Homo sapiens: one gene and its partners. The protein of the gene in region 2 purifies or fractionates together with the protein of the main gene of each other region. This does not show direct contact. Each region holds a gene or a part of one and is shown on either strand. Other genes may lie near its edges.

Region 1 (4,290 bases), on a different chromosome or scaffold from region 2:
AGGAGCACCTGCAGATCCTGTTCGAGTTCGCCAAGGAGATGATGCGCGTGGTGGACGACTTCAACAACAACATGCTGTGGTTCAACTTCAAGCTCCGCGTCGGCTTCAACCATGGGCCCCTCACGGCCGGGGTCATCGGCACCACCAAGCTGCTGTACGACATCTGGGGAGACACCGTCAACATCGCCAGCAGGATGGACACCACCGGCGTGGAGTGCCGCATCCAGGTGAGCGAAGAGAGCTACCGCGTCTTGAGCAAGATGGGCTATGACTTCGACTACAGAGGGACCGTGAATGTCAAGGGGAAAGGCCAGATGAAGACCTACCTGTACCCAAAGTGCACGGATCACAGGGTCATCCCACAGCACCAGCTGTCCATCTCCCCAGACATCCGCGTCCAGGTGGATGGCAGCATCGGACGGTCTCCCACAGACGAGATTGCCAACCTGGTGCCTTCTGTCCAGTATGTGGACAAGACATCTCTGGGTTCTGACAGCAGCACGCAGGCCAAGGATGCCCACCTGTCCCCCAAGAGACCGTGGAAGGAGCCCGTCAAAGCCGAAGAAAGGGGTCGATTTGGCAAAGCCATAGAGAAAGACGACTGTGACGAAACAGGAATAGAAGAAGCCAACGAACTCACCAAGCTCAACGTTTCAAAGAGTGTGTGAGGCGGCGCCCACCCGCTGCCCGAGGTGCTCTGTTTGTCGAAACACAGTAATATTTGTATTTGGCTGTTGTGCTTTCCAAGCGCCACAGTTGCCCTCCCCGGACGTGGTGTTATGTGGTCATTTCAGCCCTAACTTCTGTGTGGATCACAGTTATTCAGGGTTCATTTTCATCCATTCTTCCCTTTCGCTCCCTTCCCTGGAAACCCCGCTGCCTCTGGGTCATCCGTTCAGCACGTGGTGGAGAACAAGTGCCTTCAGGGCTGGCCTCGGCCTCGAGTCTCGGGACAGAGGCCGCCAGTGGAGATCATGGCTTTGGGTATTATTTGACTTTTAGAACAAAAGCTGTGGTTAAGATCTCATTTTTATTGCTTTTTCCCACGTCCCACGAGACACTATTTTCGGTTCTCTGGCTAATACCCTGTTTTTGAGTTTATTTTGTTTCTGTCTATGTCACAGTGTTCCTCTACGACCCGACCTCTCTATGTAAGCACACATGCGCACACACACTTGCATTCATGAATCTGATATAAAGTGCCAGTAATCCGCCAAGAGGGGGTGCGAAGGGGGCATGTCACGACAGCTCCGCCACCCCCCATTGCCCACCCGCACTTTCCCGAGCACCGCGCCCCGTGGGCTGTGGGTGAGCCGCGCTCCCTGCACTGAGCGGGTTTAGGGGCTCGCCCACATGCATGCAGGCCAAGACAGCAAATGCCAGCCGGGCACGACGCCCGTGTGCCCAGGCCTCGGGGGTCTCAGAGCCGCCTCTCACCCCCGACCCTCCACCCAGGGGTCTCCCCATCGGGAGTGGAGGTGTTGGTCCTGGAAGCTGACTCATCGGAGAGGGAAATACCAAATAAACATCCGAGGTTGCATTTATTTATTTATTTATTTACCCGGAAGCATGTGCGCTCCCGGGAGGGGTGCTGGGTCCTCAGGGTGGGGGGTCATAGCCACAGGGGAGGGCAGTTCCCAGGAAGGTAACCAGATGTCTCTTTTGTGTTTTGGCCACCTGGGGCCGCCCCCAACCTCCCCACCCCAAGAGGGGTCTGAGTGGGACCTCAAAGCATGGCCAGTGCAATTCTGAGGCTAGGGGAATAGGAGAAGCCCACCAGCTGCCCCTGCCACCCACGGGGGCTCCTCCCTGCCGGGGTCCAGCTCAGAACCACGGGGGTCTGTGCCGGCAGCACCGGTGCCATCTTGGCTTCCACAAATTCCAGAAGTTTCTTGGCTGCCTCCCGCTCTCAGATGGCACAGGGCCTATCAGTGGCAGGATTTAATCTGGGGAGCAAATTCCAGCTCTGAAATGGAGTTCTCACACCGTATCTAGGGACAGAGGCATCTGGATGCAAACGCGGGGTTTGTTAGGGGCGGAATCCCGAGGGTGGTGTGGGGGAGCTCCGTCCGGGCAGTTGGCTGCTGGTCCTGTCTGATTATGTTTTGCCATATTGAGTCTGAAGTTTGTGTGGAAGTGAGCTCGCCCGAGTTGTCCGGTCGGAGTTGTAGCCAGTCTTTCAGGGGACCCCGGGACGCTGATGAGGCCCAGGGTGCACTCCTTGTCAGTCTTGCCCGTTGTCCCTGTGCATTTTGCTTTCCGCTGTCAAATCTCACTGTCTCGTTTTCACACCGCATCAGTCCCCATCATCACTACTCCTCCCCAGAGACATACAGATTGCCCTCCCCGGCATGAAGAAGTCACAATTCTGACCCGCCACCTCTCCAGGGGCGGTGCCTGGGATGGCCACCCATCAGGACAGCCAGAGCCAGGGTCCCGGCGTCCTGAGAGTCCAGGGCACCTCCCCCCATTAGCTGTAAGGTTTCCTGTCAGGTGTGACTGTCAGTTTGCTGGTCTTCCAATACCGAAGAAAGGGTGGTTGTGACAATACCTCTTGCTTCTAAAGAATGTATTATAAAACACCGCAGATTTTTTTTTTTCCTTAAAAAACACTACCTGATGCTTTCCTTGTTCGTGGGGATTGTGGTCACATGAAGCTCTTTCTGCATCAGTATTAAGGTGTATATTTGAATGTCCTCCCCTCCCCTTTCCCCTCCAGGCTGTGTAGCTTTGAGGGGCTGGGCGTTTGCTCACGACCTTGCTGTCTCGCTCAGAACATGCTCCGCAAAGTTCTCCGCACACACTTCTTCCCCATCAAGCCCATTTCCTTCCCCAACCACAAAGGTGTTTGTGATTCCTCACCCCGGGAAACCAAGGAGCTGCAAAGTGGAGTCTGGTTCAGCCCCGTGCAGACTCACCCAGAGCTTAACGTTGTCTTTCAAACACCCTGAGCCTTCCTAAACAGCCAGTGCAGACGTTCTCTCTGGGCCACGAAGCCCCTCGGGTCCTCCCCGTCCCCTGCTCCGATGCATACCTCAGTGCAGAACCACAGAATCTCTGCAGCGGAAACGCCGTGCATCTCTTGTCTGTTGGCAGCGAGCACATCGTGCTGGAGACACGAGTTTCTAAGCAGCTGGCACGAGGGCTGCTGACGGCATGGGTCGTGCTTCAGGGTGGCAATACCTCTTAGGAACTTAGGGCAGGAAGCAATACTTCAGCATTGAATGTGTGTAAATAGTTGCTTTGAGTTGCAATTGCTATTTTCTTCTCAGTCCCAGCTCAGATCGAATTATATATCCATATATATATATATATATATATATATATATATATATATATATATATGGTAAACAAGCACACACAATTTTATCCAATGCAAACAAATGTAGAGCATCAGTTACAAAACCCTCGAATAGCTTGAGAGCCCCACAGGCTCTGCCACACCCGTGACTTCATCCACACTGACGTCACCCGCGGGGGCTCCCCCTGCACATTTGCACACGATCCGGAGAGCCGAAGGCCGCGTGCTTCCTGTCACATGGGCTGTAATCATTTGTAGTTTCCAAAGACACGTCTGCATTTGAATTTCTAGATTTTCGAGGTAAGGAGTTTTTTTTAATTGGTTGTTTGGAAAATCACATCATGCCTAGAATCTGAAATTGAATTAGCAAGAACCGACTGTTTGCATTTTCCATATATCCTTTTATCTGCTCTTTTTAAATTGTTAATTCTAATAATTTCAAAATGCATTCACTGAAGAAATGGACATTAAAATATTCTAAAATTTAAATATATGATGCCTGGTGTTTTCTTATTGAAAAGATGAGCACTGCTTCAGAGAGGAGGGCGGTCTTCCTTGGACAGCTCGTGTTTTCTGCGATCTGTGGCTCACCTGGGTGGGTTTGCCTTTCTTTCACGTCATGACTTCAGAAACAGGGCAAGTAGAAAACCCTGTTTGTGTTTATGTTATTTTTTTAATTGGATCTATTTGCTCCAGTTAACTTGAGTTGAAAAGTATTTATTTTTACACAGAATTTTTTAAACAATAAAAGTAAGGTTGCAGGACAAGTTTTGCTTGTGAGATTTTCCCTGTCAGGCCTCCTAAATAGTTTTCTGCAACATCCTTAGAGAAGGAATTGAGGGGGAAAAAGTAGGTTTTCTGAAAAGGAAAGAGTGATTGCAGGTACACAGATCACTGGGGTCCCAGGTGTTTTGAGGAAGTCACAAAGCCCCTTCAGAATCTGTTTAAAGTCATAGAGCCTCTTCCCAGAAAAACACACATGCCATTTT
Region 2 (3,500 bases):
ATCCCACGTATATGTATATATATGCTTGCAAAAAGGACAAAAAGGAAAATAAACTAAATGTTAATCATGTTTATATCTTAATAGATAAACTCATAGGTAATTTTCTTTCTTTATATTTATTTTCTCCAAATTTTCTATAAACATATCACTTTTATGATAAATACAATGTCAAGATTCAGCTGCCCTGTGTAAGGAAACTTAGACCCAGCTAATGCTCATTCTCAATCTCATGAATTTTTCTATAAAACTTGAAACTGCTAAAATTTATTTTAGTCATTGAATATGAGACAAGTTTTCATTGTTCTCATGAGGAAAGAGTCAAAACACACTGAAAAAGAACATGTAGTGTTTGGAAAAGTATGATTACTGCTATTCAAATTCTTTTTCAATAAATATTTACTAAGTACCCACTCTGTGTAGGTTCCTGGCTAGGTGCAACTTGCTGACGTGTGCCAGGGCTAGACTTCATTAGATTATCATCTAGGCTACCCCGGGTATCTTGGAGTTAAAATGAAAGCACGGTCACATTTGGCCCATACTTTGAGAAGCAAAGAGTCTTCCATGATAATAAAACATAAAATGGGTCAAAACAGATGAGGACCAAGGATTTTAACAACATTCTTCCAGTGTCCTTCCCCTGACAATATCTTTATTTCAAAATGGGGGAGATGATTATGTTAGCATCGGTGTTCTGCTGCTACCCTTAGAAATTTCTAAAGCCCTACCATCATTTCTTAAAATAGTGTGACTTGTCCGCATTGACAGAAATTTGCAGGTATTAGCAGGTTTTCACTTTTCCCACCAAATCATCAGGATATGGAGTGAAACTATTCTAAGTGAATCCGCACCATGTTAGAGATACAAGGAGACTTTGGTGACAAGTGACTAAAGCTTTTCATTTGGGGTGTAGCCTTTTTTGCCCAAAGAGACAAAGAGCCAGGCAGCCACCAAGGACCCAACTGGTCTCGCTCTCAGGGTTCTAAATACACTGAGGTATATGGAGGTTACAATGGTTGAAGGAGGCATAATTTTAACCCAGGGAGGGTAGGGAGTTCAACAGGGAAGGAAAAGAGGAATTGGGTTGGGAGAGAACAGAGAGGGCGGAATAGAGACAATTTTCATATACTGTTACACTCTACACAAGGCACTCCACCCTATAATAAATCTTATTTGACCCTTGGAATCACCTTGTAGGGCAGAAGTCACACAGTATCATTCCCTCTAGTTTACAAAAGAGGAAACTAAATACGAAAGTAACCTTGCTCAGGGTTACCCCATCACCTTTTGAGGAATACCTAAATATTATTACTATAATCTTCTATTTGCCCTGGTAAGAAAGCAGCCCATTCTAAAAAAACTTCTGATACTAGGATACACTATTACTTCTTTTCATTCATTTTTTTAACTTCCAAACAGTAGTTATGCCAAAGGAAAGAAGGGAGGGTGATACAAGACAAGAGGAATTATACAAAGAAAGCTCTGTTTTCAAAAGGGGAGGTGGTGAAAAACAAAATTTCTTTCTCCCCACTTTGTTGGGTATGTGGTTTATGCTCATGGTAGAATCTTCTGTGGGTAGATGCTTATGACTTTTCATTAAGCAGAGCCAAGGGGCATAGGAACTGGTAAGTATATGAGATGGATAAAGCAGATAGAGTAATTATAGGCAGGTGAAAAGATATACACACATTTATTAATATCTTCTACTTTGCAGTTAAAAAATACTTACTTTCTGTATATTAAGCAAGGGATAACAACTAGCATTTGGAACACACATCGAAACGCACTAATCTCTACAGCATGGACGTCTTGCACTTTTTTAACAAATAAAGAGCCCACTGAGAAAAGGAAGGCAGACAATAATGTGTAAAACAAGCCAAGTCCAGGACAGGGTGCTTTCTTCTTGGCTTCTGAAAAAGATTAAATTCTGGTTAGTCCTTGCTTCCAAGTGTATGTGTTATCATTTTCACTTAGAAACTGAGAAAAATGGAACAGTGTCAAAGGTCAACAGGCTTTATTACCTCCTAAGCATATCATTTCTCTGGGCCTGTACCATTTTCCCCATCAATTATGAAGAACCATAGATGAGGATAACAATTTAAACCTGCATTTTTAAAATGCCGTTTCGCCCTATCAAATGGATTTCCTATGGCTCACTGAAGAATCATCCTCACTTACAAGTCAAGAAGTAGAACGCTTGCCAAGATGGTGAGAGAAATCTTTAAGAAACACTTGTCAAGATGGCAAGTAAAAAATCCTTCCAAGTGATATCTTACGCCACACCTCACTGGCGAAATTGGCTTTATGAAGAAAGTGTTCTTTTCTGGAAAATGGGTTATAATTGGGTTATACAGTTATCTGTTGATTATTTGACTTCCTCCCACAAGTCTGTGAGCTCTTCCAGGGCTGGGATCTTGCTGTCTTGTACATGCCTGGCACATGGAAGACACTGGATAAATATTCAGTGAATGAAAGATGAGAGAACTTCAGGGAAAGACTCAAGAGTCTAACACTATCGGCAACAGCATAATCTGGGAAGGTTCTCCATTTTGTTATTTTGAACTGTTAATCAAATCTATATTTAACTTTTCATGCTTTCACGACTTATCTTCCCATTCAGAGCACAAACTCCTCAAGGGGAGGGTGTGGGTTATCTAGCCCTTTGGATCCCAAGTGCTTTGTACAGAACTGCCATCTAATCCCTACTCTTGGCTCGATCTGAACGAGGAAACCAGTGCTTTCTCCAGGGCATCAAGTATTCAGTCATTAATGACAATCTGTGTGAGCTTTAAACTTGTTTAGCCACTTACTATGTCTTAGTTTCCTACACAGGAGTAGAACCTGCTTTCAGTCTTACTCCTCTGTCATTCAGAGAGCAAAAGCAGCAGGGTGGGCAGAGAATGCCCTAAAACAAAGGTCACACACTGCGGGATATATTCTTTTTTGAAATTAACACAAAAACAGGGTTGAGGGTAAGAAGGAAACACAAGTGGCCCTCATTGATTAAGAGCACAGTGGAACTGAAGGGTGAGTGGATATGAGCAACTTGTAGGAAAACTCGTATTATCATTCCAATCTAGGACTTTATAATGTGATAGCTATAAAACAGTATTGTGTAATGTTTTTTAAAATGCCCTTCTCTGATAAATGTAAACACCAGGTAACACATTTACACATCCTCAGGTTAGTGAGATGACTTTGCAAACTGGGACCAAAGTATGCTGATGCACAGGCTTTCTGGGGCATTCTACAGCCTGGCCTTGTGGTCAAAGGCACCCTTCTCTACCTCTTCCTGTTCTAGGTGCACAGCTGAAGATACTGCTTTGGAACTAGCAGTAGTCCTTCCCTTAAGATGCCAGAATCCTCATTCTGTTCTGTATCCATGTGCTTGTATACTGCAGAAATAAACTGCACACACGCAGCCCACGAGAAGGAAGCTTTAGAAGACTTCCAAGTGAAGCACCACAAAATACATGCCTTGGCTGTGGTCAGCCTTAGGGTCT
Region 3 (3,500 bases), on a different chromosome or scaffold from region 2:
CAGCCCTTTGGGGAGTCCAACTCAGAAGGACTGCTTGAGGCCAGGAGTTCAAGATCAGCCTGGGAAACAGTGAGATCTGGTGTCTAGTCTCTACAAAAAATTTTAATTAGCTGGGCATGGTGATGTGCACCTGTAGTCCTAGCTATTCTGGAGACTGAGGCAGGAGCATCTCTTGACCCCAGGAGTTTGAGGCTGCAGTGAGCTATGATTGTGCCACTGCACTCCAGCCTGGGTGATATAGCACGACTCTGTCTCTAAACAAAAAACAAAACAAAACGAAGACTGAAGCCAAACTTGACTTTATCTTTATTTACTATAAATGCTAATTTTGAATCATGGTGTTAATTTATTTCACACGTCAACATGGTCCCTTGTTCTTTTGAAACTACACTGGCTTCTATCTTGTTTCAGTTATATGGCGCTACTTTCATGACACCCTACTGCGAAAGTATGCTGAAGAAAGAAATGGTGTCAATGTCGTCAGTGGTCCTGTGTTTGACTTTGATTATGATGGACGTTGTGATTCCTTAGAGAATCTGAGGCAGTAAGAACATATTTCATTACTCTTAAAAATAGGAATTACCATCCAGTAGAAATGGGATTACCATCCAGTTGAGTCAACAGAACCTTTTTTATCCAGTGTCGTATGTTTATGTGTATGACACTTCTGACTACACAGGAAGCCTCTTGAAATATCTGATTAATTTTGATGTTTTGCTCAATGTTCAGTAAAATATTTTTAGGTAAAAAAGTAGTGTTTCTCACCCATTCAGTTCAGTTGAATAATTTTTGCACTCAGTTTAAATGCTGAACTCATTTAAGATCTCTGTGTGGCTGATTGTTAAGATATGATCTTAATATATTGTGAGTCAGAAGATGAAGAACTCTATGGTGTGGCTACAGATATCCTGAGTCTAGGAATGAATAGGGTTATAAAGCTGCAGTGCTTGGAGTCTGGTGGCCTTGGGTGAATGTTATGGCTTTTACCCAACTGTGGCTGGAGGGGCATGATAAAAAGCAACCGTCTGAAGGAAACCATCAGTGGTGCTTTTTTAAAAAAGAGAGGGAAAGAACATCTTGGAAACTGGTTGATCTTTATTGAAACAATAATTACAGCAGTTTGGGAAGCAATTTTGCTGTTAAGTCCGTAGGAAAAAGACTGAGATTCCACTGAGATTCAGCCCCTCTCAGAACTTTCCTACTCTCCCAGGCTGACTTAGATATATGTGACTTACAAAATACATCAGAAAGCACATCAATTTGCAAAGTTACAGTTTTTTACTTTCCCTTGAGGCATAAAGCTGCCTTAGAAGCTGTAGCACTGGAGAGGATACAGAAGAGAACTGCATATGCTTCCTACCCACGGCTTCACCCAGAGCCCTCTGTTTAAATCTGTTTTATAGATTATGTTTCTACATAAGGTCATATTTGAAAACAATGATTCCACTGCCTTAAATTTTGAAAGATGTTGAAAAAACAAACACAGCCTTAAAATAGGAGAATGACTATGAGGTAAAGATGTTTGGGACATCTTTGATAATATACTTCAGTTTAAAAAATTAAGTTATTAAGGAAGAAAATCCAGTTAGAACAAACAATTCATGACAACATGTCCTCTCTGAAGGGGCTGGAATAGAAAATTCCTAACCAGTTCTTTCTCTGCCCACTATTTGTCTATAATCGCCTAGAAGTTAAGACTATCAATAATGGTTTACACTCTTGGTCATAGGTGTTCAAAAATGACATTTTCTTTTCTTTAGTGTTTCAATTTCAATGTCTTTAGGTAGAACTAAAAGAATTCTAAAAGTCAATAAACTTCTACAGAAAATAAAAATTATTTGGAGTGTGTTTATCTGCCTGTCTTCTAATTATTGCTCTCAATCTGGCAGAGTATGTTGAGGTATTGTGATTACTAGCTTCTTATATTTAATTATTTGTTTGAATTTGATTTTTATATGTATTAAAAGCATGCTCTACTGAAATATTCATCAAAAGGAAGATAGTTATTTCTTTCTTAAAATGAATATTGGCATGTTTTACAGAAAAAGAAGAGTCATCCGTAACCAAGAAATTTTGATTCCAACTCACTTCTTTATTGTGCTAACAAGCTGTAAAGATACATCTCAGACGCCTTTGCACTGTGAAAACCTAGACACCTTAGCTTTCATTTTGCCTCACAGGACTGATAACAGCGAGAGCTGTGTGGTAAGTAGCTTTTGTATATTTACTTTGCATGTTGAAAATCTAGACATATGCATATTTGTTTATGTCACCCATCTGACATTACAGTGAGAGAAAGCACAACTGAGTACACATGGACTTCGAAATTATAGGATGCTTTTAAATTTGATCTTTTAAGATGACATATCTTTGGGGAAGACTACCCTTGTCTGCTTTTACTTTTTTCTTTTTTTTTTTTTTTTTTTTAGAGATAGGGTCTTTCTATGTTGCCCAGGCTGGTCTTGAACTCCTGGCCTCTTATGATCCTCCTGTCTTGGCCTCCCAAAGTGCTGAGATTGCAGGTGTGAGCCACCCTGCCTGGCCCCTTTGTCTGGTAAAGATACTAAAAATCAGATCAGAATCAAACTTTGTATGGCTTAACCACTAAAGTCTAGGTTTATCTGAGGTATGGATTTTCTCTTTTTTTAAAACTGGATGTATAATTTCAAAGTGTCAGCACTGTTATAAATTAAAGTTGTTAGACAACATTTCAAATTTTCTGTGTATCACTTAATTATAAAAAATCTTTTCCTTTCTTATCGTATTGTCATCCCAGTGTGTTTGGGAATAATTGTTTTATATTATCTTATTTGCTCAGAATTTTAAAAATCTACATTGTAGATTGGGACATCAAGACTGCATAACATTTTAGCAATTTTTTTTTTTTTTTTGAGACAGAGTCTCACTTTGGCTCCCAGGCTGGAGTGCAGTGGCATGATCTCGGCTCACCGCAAGCTCCGCCTTCTGGGTTCACACCATTCTCCTGCCTCAGCCTCCCGAGTAGCTGGGACTACAGGCGCCCGCCACCACACCCAGCTAATTTTTTTTTTTTTTTTTGAGACAGAGTCTCACTTTGGCTTCCAGGCTGGAGTGCAGTGGCATGATCTCGGCTCACTGCAAGCTCCGCCTTCTGGGCTCACGCCATTCTCCTGCCTCAGCCTCCCGAGTAGCTGGGACTACAGGCGCCCGCCACCACACCCGGCTAATTTTTTTTTTTTTTTTTTTTTAGTAGAGATGGGGTTTCACCGTGTTAGCCAGGATGGTCTCAATCTCCTGACCTTGTGATCCACCCGCCTTGTCCTTCCAAAATGCTGGGATTACAGGCGTGAGCCACCGTGCCTGGCCTTTTTTTTTTTTTTTTTTTGGAGTCTTGCTCTGTCACCCAGGCTGGAAGGCAGTGGCGTGATCTCGGCTCCCTGCAACCTCCGCTTCCCGGGCTCAAGCGATTCTCCTGCCTCAGCCTCCCGAATAGCTGGGATTACAGGCACCTGCCACCCATG
Region 4 (3,500 bases), on a different chromosome or scaffold from region 2:
ACTCAACAGTGAGCGGATGGAGCGTGCACACCCAGCCGGCGTGAGGTTTTGTTTTCTGCCACCACCCATCAGTCAGAGCTATTGCAGGAATACCTCTTCTGAATATCTACCTCAGAATGTAAAACGACCTGGGAGAAGAGGCGGCCCCAGGTCCCTACTCCCTTCCCTTCTGACCGTCTCCCCTCTCCCCTCCACTTCTCTCCTTCCTTCCTCGCCTTCCTCCTCCTCCTCCATCCTGCTCCTGCTCCCCTCACACTTCCACTCCCTTCTCTCCCTTCTTCCTTCTTTTTAAAGGGGTTGGAGGCAGGGTAGATACAGTATGATTATATGGAATTGGGTGACTCAGAGGAACAAAAAGGGGAGCTGACTAGTGGGGAGAGATTATTAGTCCCATGACAGGAGATAAGAAAGGACCCCAAGTGTAAGAAAAAACCCTCAACACAGGAACTAGAAAAGGAAGGTGGGGATCAATGCACCCTGCTAGGAAGAAGGGGGAAGACAGATTAACACAGAGGCACTCTGCCTGGAAACTACCTTGAGCTGGAAGCCGAGGGGGATCCAGCGGCAACAATGGAAAACCACTGATTTGAAGTCCAAATAAATGTCACTTGGGGCCAGGCACGGTGGCTCATGCCTGTAATCCCAGCACTTTGGGAGGCCAAGGCAGTCAGATTGCTTGAGCCCAGAAGTTCAAGACCAGCCTAGGCAACATGGTGAAACCCCATCTCTACTAAAAATGCAAAAATTAGCGGGTGTGGTGGTGCATGCCTATAATCCCAGCTACTCGGGAGGCAGAATAATCACTTGAACTCGGGAGGCGGAGGTTGCAGTGAGCCAAGATCATATCATTGCACTCCAGCCTGGACGACAGAGTGAGATTCTGTCTCAGAAGGTCACTTGGTGGCTCATGCCTGTAATCCCAGCACTTTGGGAGGCCGAGGCTGGCGGATCACCTGGGGCTAGGAATTCGAGACCAGCCTGGCCAAGATGGTGAGACCCTGTCTCTACTAAAAATGCAAAAATTAGCCAGGCATGGTGGTGCATGCCTGTAATCCCAGCTACTCAGGAGGCTGAGGCAGGAGAATAGCTTGAACCTGGGAGGTGGAGATTGCAATGAGATGACATCGCCCCACTGCACTCCAGCCTGGCGACAGAGCAAGACTCCATCTCAAAAAAAAGAAAAAGTCATTTGGAAGAGATATGTGTAGTGTTGTTCTGTTAAAAGACTGTCCACTGTTTTCTTTTTCAGTAATTAATGGTCACACACTGTGTTTACGGCTGTTGCTAGAAATTGCAGACAACCCGGAGGCGGTCGATGTGAAAGATGCCAAAGGACAGTAAGTGCGCTCACACGTGGCCTTGGGTTGACATTTCAATCACAGCAGCTACCTGGTTGGTTTCTTAAATCATTACAAGGCTGACTGCGGAACCGAGAAATTGGAGGAATATATTTGGACCAGGACCAATACACAATGAGGTGGCTTTAAGTCACAGTGCGTATATCCAAGAAAAGCATGAAGGAGTGGGTGTGCACATGTCTTGATGAAAGGATCACCTTTTTAAGGGCTGTGGCCATGTTTCCCGGCTCTTATTTATATTCTCTCCTTTGTTCCCTCTTTCCGCCCATTTTTACCTTCTTCTGAAGCTGCTACACCATTGCCATTTTCTAATTAATAAATAGGACAGACCTCATGAGGTTATCTCTATTATTAAAATCCTTCAGATGCCTTTTCTTCCTCAACTTTGCTTTTTCAAAGTAATTTCCTTCTGTTGGCATATTCCCCACCTAATCTTCTCTTACAAATAGGAAATGCAGAGCAAAAGTCAGCAGTGACTAGCCCCAGGCATGTGAATCAGTGTGATAGTCAGAATCTCACCTCCCTCTTGCATCACAACACTTCATTCTTTCCCGGAGACTTGACAGACTTTTCTTTAGGGAAAGAAGCTTTGTGTAAATGAAATCTTTAGCAGAAGTCCAACATAGAATACTACAAAGTAGAGCTGCTCTGATGGAAGCAAGAGGGGCTTCTGCATACACATACTCCCCGCCCTTGATATCTAGTAAATGCTACATGGATCTGAAAATGATGGGATTAACATGAATATTTTGAAAAGGAAGCTTCCCCTGCCTCATCCCTAGGGATCATTCCACTAACAACATTCCATGTGGCCATTAGAGCAGAGGCAGATAGCTTGTTCTGCATATTGTATAGCAAACTGGGGACACTTAGAAAATATTAAGAAATTGTCAAAAGGAGAGGGGAAGAGAATGGGAGAAAGAGAATGTCTTCCTACTGGTAGTGATGAATATTTTTTTAAATCTCCTTTTTAAAAGCCTGCTTTATCTCTCTGCCTAGAACACCACTGATGCTTGCAGTAGCATATGGACATATTGACGCTGTTTCATTGTTACTTGAAAAGGAAGCCAACGTAGACACTGTTGACATCCTAGGATGCACAGCTTTACACAGAGGGGTATGTACATCTTTCTCAGCTCTAGTCAAGCAATTTTTTTAATGAGCTTGTTTTCTTTTTTAGCAAACAATTACAAAGGGCCTACTTTGATTGGATTTTTAGCAAAAAATGTTTAGCAAAAATTGTTTCCTAATACAACCAATTAACCTTATTCAGTCCAAAAGAAATTACAAAATCCTTGGCAAAGGCAAAATAATGGAAGGTTTTGCTCTTAAGATTTCATGTTAGATTGTGATAATAGATGCATGAACACCTACTGCTGGTGAAATTGGTTCTGCTTTCTGACTACAAAATACAAGTATATCATAGAAAATTTGCAGAATATTTTTTTTTAAAGCCCAGAGAAGAAAATCACAATCACCAGTAATCATACCTCCTGGAGATAACCACTATTTGATGTATATTATCTCCAATCTTTTTTCTATATATAGATTTGTTTTAGATTTTAAAAAGAGAATACTGAAGATATCATTTGGATTCTGCTTTTTTCTCTTAGTATATCAAGGATCTTTTTTCATTTCATTTTTTTCTGCATCATGATTTTTAATGCCTCATTGTGTTCAAGTGTCATAGTTTATTTCAATGATTACCTGGTTTTCAGTAGTTATGCAATTTCTAATTGTTTGTCCTTACAAATAATGCCAAAATATGTATCCTGTGGGCAATTATTTGCACACATCTGTTGAAGTGTTTGGTTTTTTTTTTTTAATCTCACTCTTATCACCCAGGCTGGAGTGTAGTGGCACAATCTCAGCTCACTGCAACCTCCACCTCCCAGGCTCAATGATCCTCCCACCTCAACTCCCCCCAGTAACTGGGACCACAGGTGCATGCCAGCATGCCCAGCTAATTTTTGTATTTTCTGTTGAGATGGGGTTTTGCCATGTTGCCCAGGCAGGTCTCAAACTGCTGGGCTCAAGTGATCCTCCTGCCTCCACCTCACAAAGTGCTGGGATTACAGGCATTAGCCACTTGCACCCTCTGAACTGTTTTTTAAAGCATGCCAAATAAACTAAGTAAACACA

Evidence for each region. The genes of interacting proteins can lie anywhere in the genome.
Region 1: the proteins of SLC35G1 (region 2) and ADCY9 purify together in Homo sapiens (affinity purification with mass spectrometry; one large-scale study listed by BioGRID and IntAct). This does not show direct contact.
Region 3: the proteins of SLC35G1 (region 2) and ENPP1 purify together in Homo sapiens (affinity purification with mass spectrometry; one large-scale study listed by BioGRID and IntAct). This does not show direct contact.
Region 4: the proteins of SLC35G1 (region 2) and ANKRD44 purify together in Homo sapiens (affinity purification with mass spectrometry; one large-scale study listed by BioGRID and IntAct). This does not show direct contact.

The regions. Positions count from the first base shown.
Region 1 is NC_000016.10:3,962,153-3,966,442, reverse strand, and holds the end of ADCY9 (adenylate cyclase type 9), read left to right. Parts: coding exon 1-668; 3' UTR 669-3,790; downstream 3,791-4,290. UniProt on the Homo sapiens protein: Adenylyl cyclase that catalyzes the formation of the signaling molecule cAMP in response to activation of G protein-coupled receptors.
Region 2 is NC_000010.11:93,896,978-93,900,477, reverse strand, and holds part of SLC35G1 (solute carrier family 35 member G1), read right to left. Parts: intron 1,908-3,500; coding exon 1,727-1,907; intron 1-1,726. UniProt on the Homo sapiens protein: May play a role in intracellular calcium sensing and homeostasis. May act as a negative regulator of plasma membrane calcium-transporting ATPases preventing calcium efflux from the cell.
Region 3 is NC_000006.12:131,884,520-131,888,019, forward strand, and holds part of ENPP1 (ectonucleotide pyrophosphatase/phosphodiesterase family member 1), read left to right. Parts: intron 1-411; coding exon 412-544; intron 545-2,042; coding exon 2,043-2,205; intron 2,206-3,500. UniProt on the Homo sapiens protein: Nucleotide pyrophosphatase that generates diphosphate (PPi) and functions in bone mineralization and soft tissue calcification by regulating pyrophosphate levels.
Region 4 is NC_000002.12:197,006,781-197,010,280, reverse strand, and holds part of ANKRD44 (serine/threonine-protein phosphatase 6 regulatory ankyrin repeat subunit B), read left to right. Parts: intron 1-1,249; coding exon 1,250-1,337; intron 1,338-2,357; coding exon 2,358-2,475; intron 2,476-3,500. UniProt on the Homo sapiens protein: Putative regulatory subunit of protein phosphatase 6 (PP6) that may be involved in the recognition of phosphoprotein substrates.